Linked DNA regions of Homo sapiens: region 2 is linked to region 1. Evidence: fine-mapped expression QTL. Tissue or cell type: subcutaneous fat. Region 1 holds a variant in brackets; the other region holds the start of a gene. All regions are shown on one strand. Distances are between the middles of the regions.

The links. PIP is the estimated chance that this variant, and not a neighbour inherited with it, causes the effect.
Region 2: it holds the start of CCDC88C, and the variant in region 1 is fine-mapped to the expression of CCDC88C in subcutaneous fat (TwinsUK, PIP 0.92).

What each region holds. Positions count from the first base shown.
Region 1 is chr14:91,347,642-91,350,447 of GRCh38, reverse strand. All of the region lies in intron 4 of CCDC88C (coiled-coil domain containing 88C), which reads left to right. Among named protein-coding and RNA genes, the nearest start is that of CCDC88C, 69 kb to the left of the region's middle. RefSeq lists an enhancer at 1,107-1,186. The variant T/C (reference allele first, on the strand shown) is at 1,560.
Region 2 is chr14:91,416,444-91,418,943 of GRCh38, reverse strand. It overlaps CCDC88C (coiled-coil domain containing 88C), which reads left to right and starts at 1,124. Exons shown (of 30, transcript NM_001080414.4): 1 at 1,124-1,313; 2 at 2,106-2,206. The coding sequence starts at 1,254. It overlaps CCDC88C-DT (CCDC88C divergent transcript), which reads right to left and starts at 698. Exons shown (of 3, transcript NR_184261.1): 1 at 604-698. It also overlaps the pseudogene LOC112268126. RefSeq lists enhancers at 1-643, 2,249-2,500 and a silencer at 709-1,628.

The DNA.
Region 1 (2,806 bases):
GCTCACACCTGTAATCCCGGCACTTTGGGAGGCCAAGACGGATGAATCACTTGAGGTCAGGAGCTCAAGACCAGCCTGGCCAACATGGTGAAACCCTGTCTCTACTAAAAAATACAAAAATTAGCCAGGCGTGGTGGTGGGTGCCTGTAGTCCCAGCTACTTGGGAGGCCGAGGCAGGAGAATCTCTTGAACCCGGGAGGCGGAGTTTGCAGTGAGCCGAAATTGTGCCACTGCACTCCAACCTGGGTGACAGAGTGAGACTCTGTCTCCAAAAAAAAAAAAAAGTGTCTTCTGAACATGTGCATGACTACAGCTTAAAGAACCAGAGTGGAGTCAAAAAGGACTATACACATTATGTACCAGTCATGGAAGGAAGATAGGTTTTGTTCCATGTGTTAACTTCCATTAACTGGTAGTCTGTGGAGGGCTGTGTTCAGAAGGATTCTGAGGCCTAGTTCCACCCTAAGTCAGAAAGTGCTGTGATTGACTAATCATGTCTGCCATGGACTCAGAGTTAGCAAGTCGGGGAATTTTCAAACCTTGATATAATGCACATTTTAGAGGATGGTGTATTTTAATTGTGCAACTACTTTTCTATCCTCACCTCTGCCCTTAGAAACGTGTGCTATCAGGCAGTTTCCCTTTTGTTTTGGAAGCTTATGACTGTTAACGTCTGCAGCTTTCTATATAGCTTATGTTGGCCTGCCTGCATTGCATTTCTGCTAAGAAAGGCTGGGGTGAATTTCTTTGTGTCAAGACTCCAGGAAGCAGGTAGTAAGGTAAGGTTTTTCTTAGACTCAGCTATTGACTCAGGCCGTCCTGGGATTCCCCCAGGGGTTCTCCTATTCTCAACAGAGTGTAGTTGTGTTAAGTGTGGAGTGTGTCCGGTCTGATGTTTCTCGATCCCCGCCCGCAGTGGTTGCTTGTGACTTTTTTGGTGTAGAAATTCACGTCGTTTTATAACCTGCCCCCGTTTCTCCCTCTGAACAGCAGCTCGAGTAAGTGTAACCATAAAGCACTTATACTTTGACAAGCAGCGTGCTCTCTTACCTCTTGGCCTTCGCATGTGCTGTTCCCTGGGCCTGGAAAGCCCACACTTGCCTACCCGATAAGTCTGTCTCCTCCTTATCTGTGGAACTCAGCTCAAAGGTTATTCCCTTTAGAGTCCTTGCCCTGGGCCTTGCTGCAAATTAGAAGTTCCTTTCCCGGGTTCCCATAGCATTTATCAGCTTTCTGATTGCTGGTTTGGCTCCCAGCACATAGTAGGTACTTGGCAGGGAGCTGTCTGTAGGTTTGTTTGATCTTGGCCTGCTTGACTGTGTCACTGAGCCAGTCTTACTGGCAAGGACCCAGGAGGGAATCTTCTGCTGTGTTTTGAAACTATTCAAAACCCACAATCTGGTAGATTTATGGAAATAGCGGTTTTTCTTATGACTGAAATCCTGAAAGAAATTGGGCATCGGCTTCTCATGAGAAATGAGGAAACTTCTGCTTCCCGCCCTGGGCGCTTTTTAAAAAAAAATTTTGTAGGAATCTGTAGGGGTGGGGATCACAGGATG[T/C]TTTTGTTAATAAGCAAATGTTTCTATTCACTCAGCCTGGTGAGAGCAAGCATCACTCTGCTTCATTTGAATGAGGGCAGAGGTGAATTTCTTAGTAACCTGTTCATCACCAAAGAGTTTATTTTTTTCATGAATATTTTTCTAAACTTAATTCTCTACCTTTAAAGCCTTTTTCCCTCCTGTTACAAACCTTAGCAAACAGGAATCCATACTCTTCTAACCTGTGCTGTGGGTCAGATTGTTTTCTTGATGTCTAATGGGTGTTGGGATGAATGAGGGAATGAATGAACTCAGGGTTGTCATTGTGTGTGATTGCAGGGTGCTGAGAGAGTAGAACCGTTTGCTCTGTCACCAAACAGCCTCGGAGTGTTGTTTGTTTTTGTGGTGTTTTTTGTTTATTTGTTTGTTTTGGAGACAGGGTCTTGCTCTGTCGCCCAGGCTACAGTGCAGTGGCACAATCAAAGCTCACTGCAGCTTCACCCTCCCAGGCTCAGGCGATCCTCCTACCTCAGCCTCCCAAATAGTGCACCACCAGGCCAGGCTAATTTTTTTTTTTTTTTTTTTTTAATAGAGATAGGGTCTTGGCTGGGCGCAGTGGCTCACACCTGTAATCCCAGCACTTTGGGAGGCCAAGGCAAGCAGATCACTTGAGGTCAGGAGTTTGAGACAAGCCTGGCCAACATGGTGAAACCCCATCTCTAATGAAAATACAAAAATTGGCTGGGCATGGTGGTGTGCGCCTGTAATCCCAGCTACTCGGGAGGCTGAGGCAGGAGAATCGCTTGAACCCAGGAGGCAGAGGTTGCAGTGAGCTGAGCTTGCACCACTGCACTCTAGCCTGGGTGACAGAGCGAGACTCCATCTCAAAAACTCACCATTTTTTATGGCTGCATAGTATTCCATGGTGTATATGTGCCACATTTTCTTTATCCAGTCTATGGTTGTTGGACATTTAGGTTGGTTCCAAGTCTTTGCTATTGTGAATAGTGCCACTATAAACGTACGTGTGCATGTGTCTTTATAGCAGCATGATTTATAATCCTTTGGGTATATACCCAGTAATGGGATGGCTGGGTCAAATGGTATTTCTAGTTCTAGATCCCTGAGGAATCGCCACACTGACTTCCACAAGGGTTGAACTGGTTTACAGTCCCACCAACAGTGTAAAAGTGTTCCTGTTTCTCCACATCCTCTCCAGCACCTGTTGTTTCCTGACTTTTTAATGATCGCCATTCTAACTGGTGTGA
Region 2 (2,500 bases), 69 kb before region 1:
CAAAATTACCACCGAGCCTGTCGGCAGCCATTTAGTGCCTGCTGTATACTTGCCAAGCGCCACGCAGGGCCCTTCGGGTCAACCCTGTACCAGTTGGCCCAGCTGCGAAATGCGGCGATCGTTAGGGTTAAATTAGTAAAATGGTCTACAGTGCTTTGAACAATGACCGGCTGGTGGTGTGAAATTATTACCAGGCCGAGACCAGCCTGGAGCCGGCTCCTGCCTCGTGCCGTCCCGCAAGGAGGTCCTGCCCCCGGGCTTGCCTTCCAGCCAGTTGGGGCCTTTGCCCTTTTTCCTGTCGCCTGCCACTAAGCTGCTGCTAGGAACCCCGGCTGGAATTTAGCTCGCCTCCGGCAAAGTGGTGGGGGCGGGCCCGGGTCGGGGAGGCCACATCACCTGCTTCCTGCAGGAACTTTTAGAAGGCAGGCAGCCCGGAACATGGCACGGTGGGGCACGGTAGGGCGCGAGGGGCCGCGCCCCTAAGGCCTAAACTCAACATAAAGTTTCTTCTTTGCCCTCCAGCCCAGCCCCAGGGTCGGGGCGCGTTTATCGCGCCGCGCACAAGCGTGAGGAGCGGGGGTTTGCGGGGCCTCTTGACTGTACCTGGGGCTGCACCTGCCAGGAGTGCGGAAAGGCGCAGGGCCGAGGTCCCCAAGCCCAGAGCGGGCGGCAGCTGCGGGCGACCTCGGAGGGCAGAGCAACCTCGGAGGGCAGGGCGTCCCCGCTCCCGGCACGCACCAGTGCCCGCGCACCCCAGCTCGCACGTGGCGCTCGGGCCCCGGCTGCACGCGCACGCGCGCAGGGATGCGCCACGTGCTGGGGCCCCACACGCGGGGAGGCTGCGCTCGGCGAGGGCGCGCGGTCCCACGGGCGGGGAGCCGGGCCCCGCGACCCACCCGCCTCGGGCCACCAGTCCCCTCCCAGCGCCCCGCGTAGCCTGGTCCCGCGCCCGGGCTCCCGGGCTCCCGGGCTGGCACCGCGAGGCGGCGCGCCGGTCGCCCAGGGCCGCCGAGGGGCGGGGCCGCCCGTATTGTTCCTCCCCGAGCGGCTGGCCCTCCCCTTCCCCCAGACCCGGGCGGGGCGCGGGGCCGCCGAAGCCGCGGAACGTGGGCTCGCGCGCCCCGCCTTTGTCTCCCGGGCGCGAGCCGCCGCAGCCCCGCGCCCGCTGCTCGCTGCGGAGCCGTTTTGTGCCGCGGCGCGGGGGAACGGGGACGCGGGGCGGGGGGCGCGGAGCCGGCGGGCGCAGCCTCAGCATGGACGTGACAGTCTCGGAGCTCCTGGAGCTCTTCCTGCAGAGCCCGCTGGTGACCTGGGTGAGTGCGCCTGGCTCCCCGCCCCTTTGTTGGTGCACCGGCTTCTCTCTAGCCCGGCGACGGGACGCCGCAGACCCGACACGGCCGGGGCCCCGGGTGGCTCCGGGGCGCGAGGGACGCAGCAAGTGGCTCCCGGCCGGGGTTGGGGCCGCGTCCTGGAGTCCGGAGCTTTGTAACTCTGGAGCCGGCGCCCCCGTTGTGCGTCCGGCGCGGGACCCCGCCGCGCTTTCGGCCGGGCCAGGAGCCGGGCGGGTACACCTGTTCCCGCTGGGGCTCTAGGCTGGCTGCCTCGGGGCGGACCGGGTCCCAGTGGTCACTCCTGTCCCTGGGGTTTAGCCACTCCCGAAAAGGACCCCATTCTTCCCAACCAAATATCTCATGTAGTTTTTCTGAATCCCTGAGACCAGCCGGTGGATGGCGGTGACGGGTGGGGAATGGGGGGCGCCGAATGGGAAAGCGAACAGACTGGGGTGGGCGCACTGATTTACAATGGATTTGAGACGTGAGACATTTATTGAAAAGTCCTTTTTATTTTTATTTCTTCCGCTCTGGAACGCGGGAGAAAAGTGGCGAGGAAGTTTTTCCTCCTGTCTCGTGTCTGTTGCCCCGCGCGGGGAGGGGAGACAGGCCCTAGGAGAAGGCCGGGCTTGGTGCCTGCTGAAGGGTGGTGTGGGCGTGGGTGACCCCCTTCTGCTCACACTGACCCGTCCAGTCTCTGCCTGGGAGAGCTTTGGACCGTTTGTGCGCACGGGGTGACTTCCTGTCTTTCTCTCCTCGTCCCCCTCCCCGCAGGTGAAAACTTTTGGCCCGTTTGGAAGCGGCAGCCAGGACAACCTGACTATGTACATGGATTTAGTGGACGGCATCTTTTTGAACCAAATTATGCTGCAAATGTAAGTTACCTTCTTCTCGGAGGAAGGAAAGAATGGTGCGTTAGAAAGTTTGAGAGTAGAAATGGAGTGGAAGGTTGCATGGCGGGGTGTGTGTGGGGTGGGGGGTAGTTCTCTGAAGGTGGAGACGCTGGTATCTCAGTATTAACGTGCCTGTTGGACATTCGTAGGTGTTTGAAGAACTCCAGGACAGTGGGTCTGGCAGTTGGTTTGATGAAGGAAATTTGGAATTGAATGACTGTCATTTACGTGGTGTAGATAGTGCAATTGACTTCAGACTCAAGGACTTAATTGTGG